6 linked regions of the Homo sapiens genome follow. The protein of the gene in region 3 purifies or fractionates together with the protein of the main gene of each other region. This does not show direct contact. Each region holds a gene or a part of one and is shown on either strand. Other genes may lie near its edges. The genes, in order: ARL1, TSR1, RIOK3, LTV1, PNO1 and SUPT6H.

Region 1 (2,870 bases), on a different chromosome or scaffold from region 3:
TATGTGCCAGGCACTTTGGATACATTTTGTTTAATCCTAGTACTCCTGAGAGATTTCTACAATTGGTTCCTATTTTACAGATGAAGAAACTGAGACTCAGAGTAAATAACTTGCCTAAGGGTGATACAGGATGTAGGTGCTACAATCAAGATTCAAAGTCCATGCTTTGAGCTGAGCGTGGTGGCTCACACCTGTAATCCCAGCACTTTGGGAGGCCAAGGCAGGTGGATCACTTGAGGTCAGGAGTTCGAGACCAGCCTGGCCAACATGATGAAACCCTGTCTCTACTAAAAATACAAAAATTAGCCGGGCGTGGTGGCACGGCACCTGTAGTCCCAGCTACTCAGGAGGCTGAGCCAGGAGAATCGCTTGCGCCTGGGAGGCAGAGGTTACAGTGAGCCGAGATCGTGCCAATGCACTCCAGCCTGGGTGACAGTGAGACTCCATCTCAAAAAAAAAAAAAAAAAAAAAAAACAAAAGTCCATGCTTTATAATTTGTAATTACGGGCTTAGAATATGACAGTATGTGGCACAGAAATCAAATGTTCATTCACTTCAGCATCTGTGCTTTGATGTAGTGTGTATCTCAAACGGGAATTCTCACGCTTCTAAGGGCTTTGTAATTTATCAAAAGGAGGCCATCTTAGAAGACTGATTTTAATTAATTCTAAGTGACTTAAGTGCATGTATTGCTTTCATAAAATTTTTAAAAATAAAATACTAAGGCAAAGATCAGAAAGGACAAATATATCTGGCATATTGAAGACGTCTTTGTTTTTAATCAATACATATTTATTGAGTGCCTACTGTGTGCCAGGTGCACCACACTAGATGCAACGGATACTAACAGTAAATAAGATACGGTCCCTGCCCTCAGAGCTTACATTTCAACAGTTTAAAGTGCATCTCAGGTATTTCAGATAACAGAAGTAATTCTACCACTCTCAAATTTTTTTTTTTAATGCAAGACACAACACAATCATAGGCCAGAGTTATAAAATACAATGTTAGAAAGAAACGTTTGGTATCATTCGTCCAGATCCCATTTTACAGAAAAGAAACTACAGGAGTGGCCATTTGCACCTATGTTCTGATTTCAAGTTTGGTGTTTTACCCATTGCCAGGCCTCTCATAAAACAATATTCAGATTTGCCATGTATATATCAATATCCAAACGCTGGTAGTATACCTGTGCAGTTGTCTCCTGCTAGACAAGGACCATATAATTTATAGCTTATTTAAGTGTCCACTTTCTTTATCCCATCCTATTCTTTGTGATAAACCAGAGGGATCAGGCTTAACCAAGTGCTGAACTTTGGGGCAACTTCATGCCCTAGGATTCAAGATGGCCAGCGGCTACATGCCGGGTCTGCCTGCCAGGACCTTACTTCCCATTTTTTGCAGTTTTCCTGGACTGCCGGGAGGCAGCTGTACAAGCTTTATAAGCCTCAGGCTGTAAGTGAACTTGCTTTCTGCATTTTCCAGCCATGTGCCATTGACCAGGAGTGAACTCAAGTATAAATTGCAAAGGGCTACTTGTCAAGATGACAAATATCTATCCTACTGTTTCAACTATGAACATATTCTGAAATGCCATATGCCAGGCGCCATACCAGATACTAGGGACATAAATATGAAAAAGTCTTTGCCCCTCAGGAGTAATATTGGTTGTACTGGAACATTTGTAGCTGAAGGAAAATCTCCAAAAAAGATTTCAAAGAGACTAAAGTAGGAATGGGTGCTGGAGAATGAGCAAGAAGGGTGAGAGTCCCACGGGTGAAGGGAGAAAGCAGCAGAGAATGAATATAAGCCCGGAGAATGAACATAAATGTGAGGGGAAGAGGCCAGAGGCCAACACTGGAAGGACAGTGAGGGCCAAGAAAGGAACTACTAATGTTTCTGAGACCTGCAGGGAACCATGGTATTAAGCTCTCATTACCAGCACCTAATTTTTTAGAGGCTGGTTTTCCAACTTAAGTGAAAGAAATTCACCCTGTTTTTAGCAATTATGACGCACTATATTTACTTCTGTCACATTAGCTGATTCTGTGGTGGACTGGGTAATTTGAAAAGCTCCTTTGAACATGAATTGTTTTTAAACTTACAGTCTAGCAATAAGCCTAATTTTTAAAACAGAATGCTTAATTTCTCCCTGTACAATCAGTAAGATTTTGATTTTTAACAAGTTTACATGTCCAATTACATGTAGATAAAAGGAATGAAAACCAGTAAAGACACCTTTTATAATCTGAAAATAGATTTTTAAACCTTCCTTTAATGTGAAATTTTCTCTTTAATGTGTTATGAATTCTATCAAATATAACCATTTAGGATTATTTATAGTATGTCACTGATCACTTCTACTAGTATAGACAAATAAATTTATAAACATTATTTTGAATGTAACTAATTAGCATAATTTTATTTAAGAGTTAGACTGTGTTGTCAATACTGACATTTTTGGGAATATATAGTATAGTTTATGAGTCAAGCTTCTGAACCAAAAGTTTTACTTTGAGCCCTATTCCTACCTTACAAGCTAGCAGGTGACCTTGGGCAAGCCAACCTATTAGAACCCTGGGTTCACGTCCATACAGTGAAGACATCATAACCTGTCCTACCTACTTCACAAGCTTCCTCTACCGATCAACTAGATCAATATATGTAAGATTTTTTTTGACAACTGTAAAGTACTATAAAATGACACTTACAGATAAGTCAGTGAAGTTAACCATCAAAACAATATTCATGCCTATAACCAAAAGCTTTTAAACAAAACAGCTTAATAAAAAGTGGTCAGGTAAGCAAATAAAGATTATATTACACAAACTATGTTCCTCACCTACTCTCATACTGAGTCTAATCTTTGG
Region 2 (2,572 bases), on a different chromosome or scaffold from region 3:
CCTGGCCCACTGCAGCCTCCACCTCCCGGGTTCAAGCGATTCTCCTGTCTCAGCCTCCTGAGTAGCTGGGATTACAGGCATGAGCCACCACACCCCGCTAATTTTTTTGTATTTTTTTTAGTAGAGACAGGGTTTCACCATGTTGGTCAGGCTGGTCTTGAACTCCTGACCTTGCGATCCACCCGCCTTGGCCTCCCAAAGTGTTGGGATTACAGGCGTGAGCCACTGCGCCCGGCCTATTTATTATTTCTAATATTTTTATTTTTTTTAAGAGATGGGGTCTTGCTGTGTTGGCCAGGTTGGTCTGGAACTCCTGGGCTCAAGCAGTCCTTACTTTGGCCTCCCAAAGTGCTAGGATTACAGGTGTGAGCCACCGCACCCAGCCAACTCTCTTCTTAATCCATGACAATTTTACAGCACAAAAGCAGTTACAAGTGACACCATCATAGTCTTTTCCCTGAATTCCATGTCATCAAGCTACTATCCATACCAAGGGGCTACCCTTTTCTCAAATTACCAGGACAATCAGATGTGATCCAGGCAATGGAAGGCTAGTATCAGACATATAATTTATTTATAAAGTGCTTGAAGATATTTTCATTACATCCACAAAAGGGAAGGCTCTTACTTGGGCAGAAATGTATTACTTATTGTGCCTATTTTCTTTTTTTTTTTGAGACGGAGTCTCACTCTGTCACCCAGGCTGGAGTGCAGTGGCACGATCTTGGCTCACTGCAAGCTCCACCTCCCAGGTTCACGCCATTCTCCTGCCTCTGCCTCCCGAGTAGCTGGGACTACAGGTGCCTGCCACCATGCCTGGCTAGTTTTTTTTTGTTTTTTTTTTTTGTATTTTTAGTAGAGACGGGGTTTCACCGTGTTAGCCAGGATGGTCTTGATCTCCCTACCTCGTGATCCGCCCACCTCGGCCTCCCAAAGTGCTGGGATTACAGGCGTGAGCCACTGCGCCCCACCCCATTTTGGTGTGATCTCAGCTCACTGCAACCTACCCCTCCCAAGTTCAAGTGATTCTCCTACCTCAGCCTCTTGAGTAGCTGGGATTACAGGGGTCTGCCACCACGCCTGGCTGATTTTCCTATTTTTAGTTGACACTGCATTTCACCAGGTTGGCCAGGCTGGTCTTGAACTCCTGACCTCAGCTGATCCACCCGCCTCGGGCTCCCAAAGTGTTGGGATTACAGGTGTGAGCCACCACACCAGGCCCATATTTTCTTTTAGACATGCAGGCAATGTTGTGGTTTGTTGTTAAGATGTCTTAATATTCCTCTTCCCAGGCTCTGAAACCTAGTGTGAAGGTATATGCTGCTGAACCCTCAAATGCAGATGACTGCTACCAGTCCAAGCTGAAGGGGAAACTGATGCCCAATCTTTATCCTCCAGAAACCATAGCAGATGGTGTCAAATCCAGCATTGGCTTGAACACCTGGCCTATTATCAGGGACCTTGTGGATGATATCTTCACTGTCACAGAGGATGAAATTAAGGTGAGGCTCCAGCAAGAAAAGAAATAGCAAAGCATGGTGTAACTTCTTAGGCAGAAGAAACTTCCCTTAGGAGTAGCAAGTGACCCACGGGAACCTGACTAGGTAACTTCATGACATGGGAGGGTACCCTAGATGTATTAATGACAACCCTCTTGACAGAAGCAGAGTCAGAATTAAAGAAAAGCTTTGGGAAGCGTGTGTACACAGTGATAAGAAAATTCAAACTGGACACGTATTCTCATCTGAACTTTATAGGTAAACCAACTAGACTCCCCTTTCACTAATTCCTACTCCCTTCCATATCAACAGTGTGCAACCCAGCTGGTGTGGGAGAGGATGAAACTACTCATTGAACCTACAGCTGGTGTTGGAGTGGCTGCTGTGCTGTCTCAACATTTTCAAACTGTTTCCCCAGAAGTAAAGAACATTTGTATTGTGCTCAGTGGTGGAAATGTAGACTTAACCTCCTCCATAACTTGGGTGAAGCAGGCTGAAAGGCCAGCTTCTTATCAGTCTGTTTCTGTTTAATTTACAGAAAAGGAAATGGTGGGAATTCAGTGTCTTTAGATACTGAAGACATTTTGTTTCCTAGTATTGTCAACTCTTAGTTATCAGATTCTTAATGGAGAGTGGCTATTTCATTAAGATTTAATAGTTTTTTTTGGACTAAGTAGTGGAAAAACTTTTATACTTAACTGAGACATTTTGTCAAGGCTAAAAAAAAGTCTTGCAAAATGGGGCAGTGGACTGACAGGCTGACATAGAAAATAAACTTTGCCCAATCACAACTTGTGCCTCCCATCCCTGGAGTACTGACTGGCACCGGTAAGACAGAATCTCTTTGAATCCATTACTCCATGCCCCCTTGAGGCACTGTTGAAGAAATCTCACTTTTCAGCCAGGGTACTGGTTCTGGTACATATGGATCATAAGTCCATTTGGGGAAGACTCGTTTATACAGGTTCATCAGTACTGTGTCTTGAGATTTTAGCTTCCCATCAAAGCTGCATTTCATGTGGCCATGGGTACCTAGAAAGACATCAGAACAAGTCGGTCAAATTAAAAGTAGA
Region 3 (4,417 bases):
AACATGGTGAAATCCGATCTCTACACAAAAATACAAAAATTGGCTGGGCGCGGTGGCTCACACCTGTAATCCCAGCACTTTGGGAGGCCAAGGTGGGAGGATCACAATGTCAAGAGATCGAGACCATCCTGGCCAACATGGTGAAACCCCATCTCTACTAAAAATATAAAAATTAGCTGGGCATGGTGGCATGCACCTGTAGTCCCAGCTACTTGGGAGGCTGAGGAAGAAGAATTGCTTGAACCCAGGAGGCGGAGGTTGCAGTGAGCTGAGATCATGCCACTGCTCTCCAGCCTGGTGACAGAGCGAGGCTCCGTCTCAAAAAAAACCCAAAAATTAGCTAGGTGTGGTGGCACTGGCCTGTAGTCCAGCTAATCAGGAGGCCGAGGTGGGAGCCTGCAAGGTCAAGGCACAGTGTGAGATGTGATCATGCCACTGCACTCCAGCCTGGGTGACAGAGTGAGACCCTGTCTCAATTAAAAAAGAAAGAGGCCAAGGTGGGCGGATCACGAGGTCAGGAGATCGAGACCATCTTGGCTAACACGGTGAAACCCCGCCTCTACTAAAAATACAAAAAATTAGCCGGGTGTGGTGGTGGGCACCTGTGGTCCCACTACTCGGGAGGCTGAGGCAGGAGAATCGCTTGAACCCAGGAGGCGGAGCTTGCAGTGAGCCGAGATCGCGCCACTGCACTACAGCCTGGGCAACAAAGCGAGACTCCGTCTCAAAAAAAAAAAAGAAAAAGAAAAAAAAAAAAAGAAAGACGTTGGGCATGGTGGCTCACGCCTGTAATCCCAGCAGTGTGGGAGGCCGAGGCGGGTGGACACTTGAGGTCGGAGTTTGAGACCAGCCTGGCCAATACGGTGAAATCCCATCTCTACAAAAAAAAATACGAAAATCAGCTGGGCGTGGTGGCAGGCGCCTGTAATCCCAGCTACTCAGGAGGCTGAGTCACAAGAATTGCCTGAACCCGGAAGGCAGAGGTCGCAGTGAGCTGGGAGCAAACCACTGTACTCCAGCCTGGGCGATAGGGCGAGACTCCGTCTCAAATAAATAAATAAATGAAAAGGAAAGAAAGGAAAGAAAAGAAAGGAAGGAAAGAAAGGAAAGGAAAGGAAGGAAAGGAAGGAAGGAAGGAAGGAAAGAAGTCCTGACTAAAAAGTTTTGAGAATCCTTCCATTTTTCAAAACCCTCCTCAAATCTTCACCTCCTCCATGTAGGCTTCTGTAATCACTTTGGTTTTCCAAAAGGTTAGAGAAAAAAAGGATTAATGATAGTACTTTCAGCCTGTTTCTAATTGTTTTGCCTTTCAAAACACTGTCCTCCCAATAGAGCGTCTATAAATCCCAGAAGCATTTTTGTTGCACAATGAAAATGGAATTTTATAGTTCTGATGATGTACACTTAAATAAAAATATGACTGTTAAATAGTTTATTACTGAATTAGTTTGTAAGTGAAATTTGTTCTGAGATTAGGATGTATTCTGAATAGAGTCTGTCTCATTTGACATTTTTACCAGCCTCTGCCAATGCTTAACTGAAGGACTTTAACATACAGGGTATATATTCATAATACTAGTCTGTCTACTGATTTCATCCTTTTATGTCTGCTAATCTTGACCTTGTAAACAAGGTCTCAAGGAAAAATACACAAAATAACATGCAGACTTAACCACATTTGCCAACGCAGTATCTCAGATTCTTCCAACAGCTGTACGAGAACTTTTACAAAATTAACTTTTGGTTACTTAATAGCTAATTATTGACCCCTTTTCCTGTTAAGGCCTAGCCTGAAGATCTAATAAGACCTTTTAAATGGGAACAAATATTCTGTGTTAGCATGTAAAGAACAACTATGAAGCTAAAAAAGCTAGACTCCTTTACGACCTTAATTTGTGGAACAAAAAATCCCAATGGAAGCACTCTGCTCTCAAGCAGACCCTCCATAAAGTGGCAGAAAAGTGTTTTCATCCATATAATCAAAGTATCATGAAAAGGACCTGCCTGGAAACCAGAAAGCAAATGTGAAATAAAGGTCTTTAGTTTGCCACTCTATGAAAAAGTTTAAACGTCAAAGCTTAGGCAGATAATGAAATTCATAAGCACTTTACAGTCCGTGGTGCGCACTTGAATTTCAGCGTCGAGGGAGGAGGGTGCGCCTGGGTTTTATCTTTTACTGCTTCAAAAACAAGACATTTCCAAACTGGGATAACCACACTTATCAAATTAAGTAAACAGCTTCCTAAACCAACTTTCTGTCTGGCTAGCTGTGTATTCGGCTGACTCACTTGGCCAGTGAAAAACAAGATCGTGCTTGTTTCCCCTCCAGTATCATCAGGGTGTGTAAGCCAGTCCTGCTCAAATACATGCTACGGTGATACAGAAAGTACGCTGAAGAAATAGAGAGCCCTAACCACTCAAGGTGGCCTTTGGGAGATCCAGCCGCCCTCCGCCCCTCTTTCCGCTCCCTCCATCCCCATCCCGGCACCCCCGCGGCCAGTGCCCCCTTGCCGAGGTCCGCGGGGTCCCGCCCCAGAACTTCCCGAATCGCCCACGAAGCCGCCCTCTCCGAGCTTTCCGAGAGATCCAGCCCGTGTGACCAAGGCTAGTACTCCAGTCTCGTCTGCCACTTACCTTGCTGGGTCCCCAGGCCGCTGCCGTCCCGGGCTCAGGCGATGCCACTCCTACCAGATCCATTCGGGAATGAAGGCAGAGACAAGAACAGAGCAGAGAGGTGGCAGGACGGGCAGCAGGCTCCGCCGAGGAGACAGGCGGGACACGGGCGACTGGCTGCTGATGCCGGAGTGGAGGTGACAGATGGCGGCGACGGCGGCGGCCGCGTCCGGAACTGGATCTCTCCTCTTCCGCCCTCTTCGCTAGGACAGTCGCTTGCAATTGGCCGCACGCCCCTAGCTCCTCCTTAAGGCACCTTTCCCCGCCCCCGGGCGGGCTACTTCCGGCTGCTGACCGCCGGGCTCGGAGAAGCAAGCATCAGCTGGCTGTCGCTTGGGGTCACGTTGCCTGTGTCGGGCAGGGCAGGGCAAGAACTGGGTGTGGCTTCCTTTGGCCCAGGCTCTGCCCTGTCCCCGCACTGCCATCTCCTTCTTTCCTCCTTGGCACCCCAAAAATTGCCGCTGGATCTAAACTAGATTAGACTAGTGGATTGTAAATAAATAAACAAACTAGGCTCTCTCTGTTCATTCATTATTTCCTGGAGCAGTTCTAAACTGGGATGACTTGGGAGACAGAAAACGGCAGGTTTATAGAGGGAAAGGGCCTGGAAAGGACGGTCGGAGTTTGTGGTGGTTGTTGTTGAAGGGCGGGGCGTGGAATGCGGAAAATGTGTAAAATGTGTTACGTAACAGTGAACAAAAATAAGACTGCATAATAAAACTTTTGTTTCTGTATTTTGTAGAGATTCTAATAAAATGACCAGATAAAAGATAACTAAACATTGCATTTCACTTAGTATATCAATGCACTGTTCAAATCTTTCATTAACTTTTTAGTCCTCAAAATTACCGTGAGAGCTAAATTCTGTCATTATCTCTATTTTACTGATATTGAAACTGAGGCACAGAGAGGTAAAGTAATTTAGTTGAGGTCACACAGATAACAAGTGGCAAAGCTAATAAGGGGTGAACCCAGACAATCGGTTTGGGAACTGGACTGGCTGTACATTATATTTTGACTATAAACTATACACTGTCTATATGTTGTATATTCAAACATTCTAGAAATAGGTACTGAATAACTGTTTTCCCTAAATCTCAGTTCCGAGTCAGTATCTCTAACTGTCCATACTTGAGAGCCCTGGGTTACTGATCTTAATGATTTCCATTAGCACACAATCTTTGCCTCCTTTCCATTCCAGGTGAAAACATGTTCTGAATCCTCCAAATACCCCTACTGCAATAAGGCAAACTATAGCCATATGATAGGGTGCAGATGTGTGCTTGGCAAATGTTGCCTATATATGTGAATGTGTGTGGAAATTGTGTTCCTTCCTAGTGTTCAAAGGATTATAATTGGACGATAAATAGTTTAAGAAAAATGGGTGTAACTATTAATAGAAATGGACTTCTCAATTCTGGCTAGGAAAAAATAGGAGAGGGCTGGGCGTGGTGGGTCATGCCTGTAATCCCAGCACTTTGGGAGGCCAAGGTGGGTGGATCACCTGAGGTCAGGAGTTTGAGACCAGCCTGGCCAACACGGTGAAACCCCATCTCTACTAAAAATACAAAAAGCAGCCGGGTGTGGTGACACGCACTTGTAATCCCAGCTACTCAGGAGGCTGAGGCAGGAGAATCACTTGACCTCGGGAGGCCGAGGTTGCAATTAGCCAAGATCATGCCACTGCACTCCAACCTGGGCAACAGAGTGAGACTCCGTCTCAAAAAAAAAAAAGAGAAAAAAG
Region 4 (3,791 bases), on a different chromosome or scaffold from region 3:
GCCGGCTCTGAAGAGAGCAGCGGATCTCCCGGCACAGTGCTCAAGCTCTGCTAAGGGACAGACTGCCTCCTCAAGTGGGTCCCTGACCCCTGTGCCTCCTGCCTAGGAGACACCTCCCATCAGGGGTCAATAGACACCTCATAGAGGAGAGCTCTGGTTGGCATCTGGCGGGTACCCCTCTGGGACAAAGCTTCCAGAGGAAGGAACAAGCAGCAATCTTTGCTGTTCTGCAGCCTCTGCTGGTGATACCCAGGCAAACAGGGACTGGACTGGACCTCCAGCAAACTCCAGCAGACCTACAGCAGAGGGGTCTGACTGTTAGAAATAAACCTAACAGAAAGGAATAGCATCAACATCAACAAATAGGACGTCCACACAGAAACCCCATCCAAAGGTCACCAACAACAATGACCAAAGGTAGATAAATCCAAGAAGATGAGGAAAAACCAGCACAAAAAGGCTGAAATTTCCAAAAACCAGAATGCCTCTTCTCTTCAAAGGATCACAACTCCTCGCCGGCAAGGGAACAAAACTGGACGGAGAATGCGTTTGATGAATTGACAGAAGTATGCTTCAGAAGGTGGGTAGTAACAAACTCCTTGGAGCTAAAGGAGCATGTTCTAACCCAACGCAAGGAAGCTAAAAACCTTGAAAAAAGGTTAGAGGAATTGCTAACTAGAATTACCAGTTTAGAGAAGAACATAAATGACCTGATGGAGCTGAAAAACACAGCAAGGGAACTTTGTGAAGCATACACAAGTATCAATAGCCGAATTGATCAAGTGGAAGAAAGGACATCAGCGATTGAAGATCAACTTAATGAAATAAAGCGTGAAGACAAGATTAGAGAAAAAAGAATGAAAAGGAACGAACAAAGCCTCCAACAAATATGGGACTATGTGAAAAGACCAAATCTCTATGTTTGATTGGTGTACCTGAAAGTGATAGGGAGAATGGAACCAAGTTGAAAAACACTCTTCAGGATATTATCCAGGAGAACTTACCCAACCTAGCAAGAGAGGCCAACATTCAAATTCAGGAACCACAAAGATACTCCTCGAGAAGAGCAACCCCAAGACACATAATCGTCAGATTCACGAAGGTTGAAATGAAGAAAAAAATGTTAAGGGCAGCCAGAGAGAAAGGTCGGGTTACCCACAAAGAGAAGCCCATCAGACTAACAGTGGATCTCTCAGCAGAAACCGTACAAGTCAGAAGAAAGTGGGGGCCAATACTCAACATCCTTAAAGTAAAGAATTTTCAACTTAGAATCTCATATCCAGCCAAATTAAGTTTTGTAAGTGAAGGAGAAATAAAATCCTTTCCAGATAAGCAAATGCTGAGAGATTTTGTCACCACCAGGCCTGCCTTACAAGAGCTCCTGAAGGAAGCACTAAATATGGAAAGGAAAAACTGGTACCAGCCACTGCAAAACGTACCAAACAGTAAAGACCATCGATACTAAGAAGAAACTGCATAAACTAATGGGCAAAATAACCAGCTAGCATCATAATGACAGAATCAAATAACACATTACAATATTAACCTTAAATGTAAATGGGATAAAAGCCCCAATTAAAAGACACAGATTGGCAAATTGGATAAAGAGTCAAGACCCATCAGTGTGCTGTATTCAGGAGACCTATCTCATGTGCAAAGACGCACACAGACTCAAAATAAAGGAATGGAGGATATTTACCAAGCAAATGGAAAGCAAAAACAGCAAGTGTTGCAATCCTAGTCTCTGATAAAACAGACTCTAAACCAACAAAGATCAAAAAACACAAAGAAGGGCATTACATAATAGTAAAGGGAACAATGCAACAAGAAGAGCTAACTACCCTAAATATATATGCACCTAATACAGGAGCACCCAGATTCATAAAGCAAGTTCTAAGAGACCTACAAAGAGACTTAGACTCCCACACAATAATAATGGGAGACTTTAACACCCCACTGTCAATATTAGACAGATCAACGAGACAGAAAATTCACAAGGATCTTCAGGACTTGAACTCAGCCCTGGACCAAGCAGACCTAATAGACAGTGACGTAACTCTCCACCCCAAATCAACAGAATATACATTCTTCTCAGCACCACATTGCACTTATCCTAAAATTGACCACATAATTGGAAGTAAAACACTCCTCAGCAAATGCAAAAGAATGGCAATCATAACAAACAGTCTCTCAGACCACACTGCAATCAAATTAGAACTCAGGTTTAAGAAATCCACTCAAAAATGCACAACTACTTGGAAACTGAACAACCTGCTCCTGAATGCCTACGGGGTAAATAACAAAAATAAGGTAGAAATAAATAAGTTCTTCGAAACCAATGAGAAAAAAGACACAACATACCAGAATCTCTGGGACACAGCTAAAGCAGTGTTTAAGGGGAAATTTATAGCACTAAATTCCCACAGGAGAAAGCAGGAAAGATCTAAAATCGACACCCTAACATCACAATTAAAAGAAGTAGAGAAACAAGAGCAAACAAATTCAAAACCTAGAAGACAAGACATAACTAAAACACAGCAGAACTGAAGGAGATAGAGACACGAAAACCCTTCAAAAAAACCAATGAATCCAGGAGCTAGTTTTTTGAAAAGATTAACAAAATAGATAGACTGCTAGCCAGACTAATAAAGAAGAAAAGAGAGAAGAATCAAATAGACACAATAAAAATTGATAAAGGGGATATCACCACCGATCCCACAGAAATACAAATTACCATCAGAGAATACTATAAACACCTCTATGAAAATAAACTAGAAAATCTAGAAGAAATGGATAAATTCCTGGACACATACACCCTCCCAAGGCTAAATCAGGAGGAAGTGGAATCCCTGAATAGACCAATAACATGTTCTGAAATAGAGGCAGCAATAGCCTACCAACCAAAAGAGAAGCCCAGGACCAGACAGATTCACAGCCAAATTCTACCAGAGGTACAGAGAGGAGCTGATACCACTCCTTCTGAAACTATTCCAAACAATAGAAAAAGAGGGACTCCTCTCTAACTCATTTTATGAGGCCAGCATCATCCTGATACCAAAACCTGGCAGAGACACAACAAAAAAAGAAAATTTCAGGCCAATATCCCTGATGAACATCAATGCGAAAATCGTCAATAAAAAACTGGCAAAACAAATCCAGCAGCACATCAAAAAGCTTATTCACCACAATCAAGTTGGCTTCATCCCTGGGATGCAAGGCTGGTTCAACGTAATCCATTACATAAACAGAACCAATGACAAAAACCACATGATTATCTCAATAGATGCAGAAAAGGCCTTTGATAAAATTCAACACCCCTTCATGCTAAAAACTCTCAATAAACTAGGTATTGATGGAACATATCTCAAAATAATAAGAGCTATTTATGACAAACCCTCAGCCAATATCATACTGAATGGGCAAAAGCTGGAAGCATTCCCTTTGAAAACCGGCACAAGACAAGGATGCCCTCTCTCACCAATCCTATTCAACACAGTATTGGAAGTTCTGGCCAGGGCAATCAGGCAAGAGAAAGAAATAAAGCGTATTCCAATAGGAAGAGAGGAAGTCAAATTGTCTCTGTTTGCAGATTAACATCACTGTCTATTTAGAAAACCCCATCATCTCAGCCCAAAATCTCCTTAAGCTGATAAGCAACTTCAGCAAAGTCTCAGGATACAAAATCAATGTGCAAAAATCACAAGCATTCCTATATACCAATAATAGACAAACAGAGAGCCAAATTGTGAGGGAACTCCCATTCACAATTGCTACAAAGAGAATAAAATACC
Region 5 (3,791 bases), on a different chromosome or scaffold from region 3:
AGGTGATCCTCCCACTTCGGCCTCCCAAGTAGCTGGGACTACAGGTGTGGGCCGCCACACCCGGCTAATTTTTGTATTTTTTTGTAGAGAAGGGGTTTCACTATGTTGCCCAGGCTAGTCTCAGACTCCTGAGATCACGCCATCCACCTGCCTCAGCCTTCCAAAGTGCTGGGATTACAGATGTGAGCCACCATGCTTGGCCATATTTTTAAATGTGGTGTGCATTTGCACATTTCCAGTTCAAAATAGCTTCTCCCAAGGCTCCATATTTCTGACTCTAGGCTCAATCCATAAAAGATCAAACAATATAATTATATGCCTGGCTTCAGGTAAAGAGGGCCACCAACACAGTAGTATAGTTATCCTTAAAGTGTAAAGAATGTACAAAATTTAGGTTCTATATAATGAAGAGTCCTTCAGTATGGAGCAAAATTGAGATATTAAATGAAATTATTTCAGAATTTAGTCATAGGCAGAACCCTCCTCCTCTCAGTCAACTGTTCAGTTTCCCAACTTCATGGCATTATATAATCTCTGAGCCATCTGCCAGTAAGATCCCCAGCCTGGGCAGCTTCAACCTCAGACAGGGGTAATCCCAGCTTCACTTCTGGCACCTTTATTTTAAGCCCCTCTCATCTTGTTTATGTTCACATATAACTGCTCTCTAGTTTTGCCTAATGTACGATATTCCCCTCCTTTTATAAAAGGCCTTAACATATATATGTATATACATAAAGTAGATATATACTTCTAAAGACTCACAAGGGCATCTGAAATAGTGATTGCTTGTTCTCCCCTAGTGATTTAATAGATTCCCTTGAGTAAGTATGTATGTATGTATGTATGTATGTATGTATGTATGTATGTATTTATTTATTTGAGACAGAGTCTCACTCTGTCGCCCAGGCTGGAGTGCAGTGGCATGATCTCGGCTCACTGCAACCTCCTCCTCCTAGGTTCAAGTGATTCTCCTGCCTCAGCCTCCCGAGTAGGTGGGACTAAAGGCGTATGCCACATGCCCGGCTAATTTTTGTATTTTTAGTAGAGAGAGGGTTTCACCATGTTGGCCAGACTGGTCTCGAACTCCTGACCTTAGGTGATCCGCCCGCCTCAGCCTCCCAAAGTGCTGGGATTGCAGGCGTGAGCCACTGTGCCCAACCCGAGATATTATTTAAATCTTCACCTGTAATAATTTCTTTTAATAGCATTTCCTCATTGTTAAATGAGAAAAGAATATATAATTTCTTAAATTTTCTCAACTTAAGCCTCTTTCAAAGTTGGTGACCATCTATTCACCCAAAAGTATACAGATGATTCCCAACTTAACACGGTTCGAACTGGGATTTTTCAACTTTACAAGGGTGCAAAGGTGATACACATTCAGAATGCTCTACTTCAAATACACATACAACCATTCTGTTTTTCATTTTTAGTACAGTATTCAATATTCAACACTCTGTCATAAAGTAGAATTTGTGTCGGATGACTTTGCCCAACTGCAGGCTAATGTGTGTTCTGACCATGTTTATGATAGGCTATGCTAAGCTATAATGTTCCATAAGTCAGGCATATTAAATGCATTTTAGACTTATGATATTTTCAATTTATGATGGATTTATGAGGAGCATCTGCACTGACAAAGATTTAGCAGCAACATTATGCATAAAATACAACTGTTATGACTTTCTTAAAACAAAAGATCAAATATAAATTATGACAATAATTTTCTCAAGATCAGATACTTACACATCAGCCAAAACTATCCTTGTCCGTGTCACATTCTCTATGGTGAATTTGGTTTTTCCTCCTTTGCCAGCGATTCTTCCTATTGCCCTGGATAGATGGTCTCCCTTTAGGGGTTTAACTAAACAAGAAAAGCAAGATCTCAGGAGGCAAGCCATTCTAGTGTACCACCCATTCCACATAAAGTTTAATCATAAACTAAATTTCTCTAAAGGACACAAAGTGTATATATATATATATAAGTTGCTAAAAATACAGCTCAATTGATGCTATTAGAAAACTGAGAGTCACATCACAATACAAAGTCAGCGACACAAGAGCGCAGACCAACACACACTCACCATCTGTAATTTCAAAAGACTCTAGGAAGAGGTCATCCAACCTGATGAGGGCAAGTGCATCCTATAATATAAAAACAAACACCGTGAAGCCCCTTCCATTTGCACACCTGAAAAAGAGTAAAGTGCAAAGCACTATGGAACTAAAATCCACAAACTCTAGAGCTAGAAAGCTTTTTTTTTTCCCTTGGAGACAGAGTCTTACGCTGTCGCCCAGGCTGGAGTGCAGTGGCGTGATCTTGGCTCACTGCAATCTCTGCTTCCCTGGTTCAAGTGATTCTCCCACCTCAGCCTCCCAAGTAGCTGGGACTGCAGGCATGCACTACCACACCCAGCTAATTTTTTTGTATTTTTAGTAGAGATGGAGAGTATCGCCATGTTGGCCAGGATTATTTTGAACTCCTGGCCTCAAGTGATCCACCTGCCTCAGCCTCCCAGAGTGCTGAGATTACAGGTGTGAGCCACTGTGCCTGGCCTTTTTTTTTTTTAATGCCTAATCCATTGAAATGTTCACATTGAATATTTTTAAAGTCCCCATTTTAGATATCATGGAATTACTCACCTCCACCTGAAAGCCGAGAATAAAAGCTTTCACAAAATCAGCTGCTTTTGTCAGAGCACTAACATCCTTGGTTTCTTTACAAGTCTGTTAAAAAACAAAAAAGGGTACAAAATACCGTTGAGAATCAAACAGAAAATGTCCTAACAAAATACTGGAAATGTCCTTTCCCATTATTGGAGAATTTCCTTCACCACCACCTTTCCCTAATATATTCTGTATGACACAGGTTCTGGTCAGATAAGTGCTGTACTTTATTTGCAAAACAAAACGTTCCCAGCTCCAAAGCTTGGCTGTTCCACCCAAAGAGTGTCAAATAACTAACCGCACTATATGATCAGATTTTGGGGTTAACAGCAAGACTCCTCTGGCACAACCCAATCTCTCCCATTCTGAAGAACCTCTACCTTCTGTCCATCCCTTCAATGCCCAATGTCCTCTTCTCTTCTCTCTCAAGGCAGTCTTCCCTGGGATTCCTGACTTAATCTTCTTAGTTATCATTTATATGCTGATGTTTCTTAAACCAACAGCTCCAGGCCTAACTACCTGCATGCACTGATTGGGGAAATAAAGAATGAATGAAGCACTGAACCTGTCCTCAAAGTTTATTTGAGAAATGCAGAAATAACTGTTATTCATAAAAAGCCTACCACTGTAAATAACACGTACTATAAATAACATGCTTTACACACCATAACTCTAACCTTCACAACAACTTTGAATGTTAAGTGATATGACTACCTTCGTATGTGAGGAAACTAAAGTACTAAAAAGCAAAAAAGGTAAGATTTAAACACAGGTCTGATTTCAAAACTGTTATTTCCACTGTCCCATGCACATTCACAGTCTAGTTGAAGAGACCACGTATTCAACAAATGTAAAACCATATGGGCTTGTGCAATGGGAGAGTCCCCAGAGCTTTCCCATTTAAAACTAGACCCTAGTTCCAATCCTATATGTGACCTTAGACAAGTCCCATAGATACTTTAGGTCTTGAGTTTTCTCATCAGTAAAATGAGGAGGTCAGAGTAGAAGATCCTGAGTGTTCCCTACTAGTATAATAGAAAATTTCCCTTATTAGACTGATGACTGTGGCCAAGTTTCCTCACATCTTTAAGATGGGAATATCCTGAAGACTAAATGATGTAGAG
Region 6 (3,791 bases), on a different chromosome or scaffold from region 3:
ACAGGCGTGTGCCACTGCTCCCAGCTAATTTTTTGTATTTTTAGTAGAGATGGGGTTTCACCATGCTGGCCAAGCTGATCTTGAACTCCTGACCTCAAGTGATCTGCCCGCCTCGGCCTCCCAAATTGCTGGGATTACAGGCATGAGCCACTGTGCCTGGTTGACAAGTTGGATTTCTAAGGGATGGGGCCCTGTGCTACACATTCTCCAAGGTTTAACAGTGCTCCTGCAGGGCCAGCCTTGGGGTCTGAGGGCTTCCCATAATGGAATAAACACCGCATGTTTTACCTCTCCATGTCAGTGGTGTCCAGAGCCCGGATGCCATCAGCAAGAGGTTTGTCAGGGTCAGCAGAGATCTGTTCATACTGATAAGCCTGCATCTTCTCAAACAGCCGTGTTAGGTTCTCTTTACGGATCCGCAGCTGGGTCCACTAAGGTGAAGTAGGGCAGGAATGAGAGCTTGTGTTCAGCCCTGGAGACTCAAGGCTGCTCTGATCCTTACCAGAAACCTAGTGGGGGAGGACTAGACAGGCCTGGGGGGTTTGGGTTTGTGGTATCCTGGTAGTAATGGTGCCTTCCCTGGCCCACACCTCTTGGGGGCCACGGATCTACATTACCTTTTCATCCCACTGCCAGACTCTCCATAGGTCATTGATGTGCAACTCAGGCTCCACATACTCCTTTCGATAGAAGGCAATAAAAGGCACCTAGGATGGCAAAGAGACTGCAGTCACTCAGAGAAGACAGATTTGCTAAGATCCCCTCTGTCAGTAGATAATGACTTCCTGGAGAAACAGCTCCAGGAAATTCAACAGTCAGAAGCCTGGCCTCCCTCACAGCCCTTCCAGGGCCTGGTGCTTTCCTCAATAGGAGAAAATAAAGCTGCAGACAGGGTAGCATTGTTCTTACGATCACTAGGGTCTCTGCTGGTCCTAACACTTGTTGAGTCATGGATAGGGGATACGGGAAGGGGGCTCCCACCTCATTTAGGTAATTATCTTTTCCCTCATCCCCTAACTAAATTTCTCACCAATGGGCCACCAGAGCTTGAGGTGTTACCTCAAAATGCTGATTTCGCATGAAGCCCAGGGCCTCTTTGATCTTCTGAATTGTGCTGGGCCCTTTCCGACTGAAGCTGCTGGCTGGCTGCCCTCGGTCTAGGTAATCACAGCTTTCCTACAGTAGGAAAATAAAGAAATAGCAAGACAATGTTTACTTGGTTTGTCTTACCATACAAGACTGCTTAATAACAAAGGATAACCTTTCTAGATGAAATCTAAAAAATTTTTCTCATATACACACACTTGTTGGGACTACATACACACAGTTTTCTAATACCAGGCACACGGATGTATGAAATAGGGGAGGAAGAGCTCCCCATCTTGATGAAGTGTCTTTTGGTTCATGTCAAAACCTAAGGATCTTTTTTGTGTACCTGGAGAGAAATGGTTGGTGTGGCAAAAGCATTCCTGTAGATCCAGTCAGCTTCTTCTTCTAGTTCATCATCTTCAGCCCCCTTGACTGGGATGGAGCGGAGCTGGAGTGGATAAGACAACAGGGTGAGACGGACTTTATCTTGTGTCTCACTTAAGAAAAACATACCTTTTTGGACAGAAACGTGTGATCATCAAGTGCACATTTCCAGTATTGTTCTACAAATGCCATACCAGTGTTGTTCTGGCATGAAATAAGCATTTTTTTTTTTTGAGATGGTGTCTCACTCTTGTTGCTCAGGCTGGAACACAACGGCGCGATCTAGGGTCACTGCAACCTCCGCCTCCGGAGTTCAAATGATTCTCCTGCCTCAGCCTCCTGAGTAGCTAGGATCATAGGTGCCCGCCACCACGCCCAGCTGATTTTTTTTTTTTTGAGATGGAGTCTCGCTCTGTTGCCCAGGCTGGAGTGCAATGGCGCGATCTCAGCTCACTGTAACCTCCGCCTCCCAGGTTCAAGGAATTCTCCTGCCTCAACCTCCCAAGTAACTGGGATTACAGATGCATGCTGTCAACGCCCAGCTAATTTTTTTTTTTTTTTGTATTTTAGTAGAGACAGGGTTTTACCATGTTGCCCAGGCTGGCCTCTAACTCCTGAGCTCAGGCAATCCACCCACCTTGGCCTCCCAAAGTGCTAGGATTACAGGCGTGAGTCACCGTGCCTGGCCGCCCAGCTAATTTTTTACATTTTTAGTAAAGACGGGGTTTCACAATGTTGGCCAGGCTGGTCTCGAACTCCTGACCTCAGGTGATCCACCCACCTTGGCCTTCCAAAGTGCTGGGATTACAGGTGTGAACCACCGTGCCTGGCCATAAGCATTTCATGGTTTTTTTTTTTTGAGACAGGGTCTGCTTCTAGGCTGCAGTGCAGTGGTGCAATGATGGCTCACTGCAGCCGTGACCTCCCAAGTTCAAGCAATCTTCCCACCTCAGCCTCCTGAGTGGCTGAAACTACAGGTGTGCACCATCACAACCAGCTAGTTTTTTGTATTTTTTGTAGAGACAAGATCTCCCTATGTTGCCCAGGCTGGTCTTGAGTTCCTGGACTCAAGCAATCTGCCACCCTGGCCTCCTAAAGTGCTGGGATTATAGGTGTGAGCCACAGCACCCAGACTGCATTTCACAGATTTCTAAAGAAAACAGTATTTCTAGAACCGTAAGCAAGGTAGAGTCTATCTTCCCTTCTCTAAGAGCTGGATTTCCCAGGCCCCAGGTGAGATGAGGTTCAAACCTGTGCTGGATACTCAATGCCAGACTTTTGCTAGAATATTTCTTGGCTACAAGGTAATTATGGATTGGTAGAAGAGCAGAGGCTGGTGGTTTTTTACCTGGAACCTCTCAGGCAGGTCAGTGGCTCGGATTTCATTGTCCTGATCTGTGAGGTGGCTGCTTTCTAGCTCACTGGGCTCATACATTTCAAAGATGCTCCTACGGCTCACACGCTTCTTGGTGGTCTTCTTGGGGCGCACTCGGATTTCACCCTCAGCCTCATCATCCTCATACTCATACTCTTCCTCCAGTTCTTCATCATACTCATTGTATTTCTCAAATTCATCATAGTCAAAGTCCACACCGAAGATTTCCTGGGCTTCTTGCAGGGCCCTGTAGGTGGCAGCAAGAGGCAGGTGGCTCAGGTTCAGGTGAGAGGAGAGAAATGCAGCCCTTGCATAGATCCTTTACTTGTCCCAAGGGAACTGAGAGGGTTAGGAGGAAGGTAAACAAAATAACCATATTCACTGTGGACGAAAGGCTTCATTGGCGGATATTTCTGGGCAAACTATTGTATATGGAAGATTAAAAAGCTCATCTTTGGCACCTTCGAGTGACAGTAATCAAATAGCAACAGAGCAGACGGGTCTATGTCTTGCTCAGTGGACCCATCTTCTGCTAAGGCATTACAGTATTCCCTCAGGGCAAAAGCTTTCAAATTTGTAAATTGTGATGCGGGCATTTGTCTTCCAACAAAAATATATTAAGAATGTCAATATATATATAATTGAATAAACATGGAGCTGTAGGCGGAAGAGGAATGCTGGAGCCTTGCCCATGTGGGACTCTACTCCAATCCCACAGTAGTCCTAGAGTGCAGAGACAGCTCCCAGGGCTTCCGGGAGCAGTCTGAAATCACTGCCTGGTAGAGGTTATTTGAGGCAGGGAAGCAAAATGGCTGCAAGCTGGGAATGCCCCATTTTTGGCAAAGGCCTCTGATCTCCTCCTTCCTGACTGGGCCCACTCAATCACTTTATCCCCACCTTGTACCAGACCCCACTCACGCGTCTGTGTATCCAGGAAGCTTTT

The links.
Region 1: the proteins of RIOK3 (region 3) and ARL1 purify together in Homo sapiens (co-immunoprecipitation; one large-scale study listed by IntAct). This does not show direct contact.
Region 2: the proteins of RIOK3 (region 3) and TSR1 purify together in Homo sapiens (affinity purification with mass spectrometry; one large-scale study listed by BioGRID and IntAct). This does not show direct contact.
Region 4: the proteins of RIOK3 (region 3) and LTV1 purify together in Homo sapiens (affinity purification with mass spectrometry; one large-scale study listed by BioGRID and IntAct). This does not show direct contact.
Region 5: the proteins of RIOK3 (region 3) and PNO1 purify together in Homo sapiens (affinity purification with mass spectrometry; one large-scale study listed by BioGRID and IntAct). This does not show direct contact.
Region 6: the proteins of RIOK3 (region 3) and SUPT6H purify together in Homo sapiens (affinity purification with mass spectrometry; one large-scale study listed by BioGRID and IntAct). This does not show direct contact.

What each region holds. Positions count from the first base shown.
Region 1 is NC_000012.12:101,392,366-101,395,235, forward strand, and holds the end of ARL1 (ADP-ribosylation factor-like protein 1), read right to left. Parts: 3' UTR 751-2,870; downstream 1-750. UniProt on the Homo sapiens protein: GTP-binding protein that recruits several effectors, such as golgins, arfaptins and Arf-GEFs to the trans-Golgi network, and modulates their functions at the Golgi complex.
Region 2 is NC_000017.11:2,321,844-2,324,415, forward strand, and holds the end of TSR1 (pre-rRNA-processing protein TSR1 homolog), read right to left. Parts: exon of another isoform or gene 2,532-2,572; coding exon 2,353-2,531; 3' UTR 2,031-2,352; coding exon of another isoform or gene 1,812-2,030; 3' UTR 1,503-1,811; coding exon of another isoform or gene 1,293-1,502; 3' UTR 553-1,292; downstream 1-552. Other genes in the region: SRR (serine racemase), read left to right, coding at 1,293-1,502, 1,812-2,030. UniProt on the Homo sapiens protein: Required during maturation of the 40S ribosomal subunit in the nucleolus.
Region 3 is NC_000018.10:23,451,720-23,456,136, reverse strand, and holds the start of RIOK3 (serine/threonine-protein kinase RIO3), read right to left. Parts: upstream 2,851-4,417; 5' UTR 2,698-2,850; coding exon 2,635-2,697; intron 1-2,634.
Region 4 is NC_000006.12:143,853,206-143,856,996, reverse strand, and holds part of LTV1 (protein LTV1 homolog), read right to left. Parts: intron 1-3,791. UniProt on the Homo sapiens protein: Essential for ribosome biogenesis.
Region 5 is NC_000002.12:68,160,619-68,164,409, reverse strand, and holds part of PNO1 (RNA-binding protein PNO1), read right to left. Parts: intron 2,728-3,791; coding exon 2,644-2,727; intron 2,146-2,643; coding exon 2,085-2,145; intron 1,865-2,084; coding exon 1,747-1,864; intron 1-1,746. UniProt on the Homo sapiens protein: Part of the small subunit (SSU) processome, first precursor of the small eukaryotic ribosomal subunit.
Region 6 is NC_000017.11:28,675,461-28,679,251, reverse strand, and holds part of SUPT6H (transcription elongation factor SPT6), read right to left. Parts: coding exon 3,767-3,791; intron 3,096-3,766; coding exon 2,822-3,095; intron 1,538-2,821; coding exon 1,436-1,537; intron 1,177-1,435; coding exon 1,060-1,176; intron 708-1,059; coding exon 618-707; intron 432-617; coding exon 289-431; intron 1-288.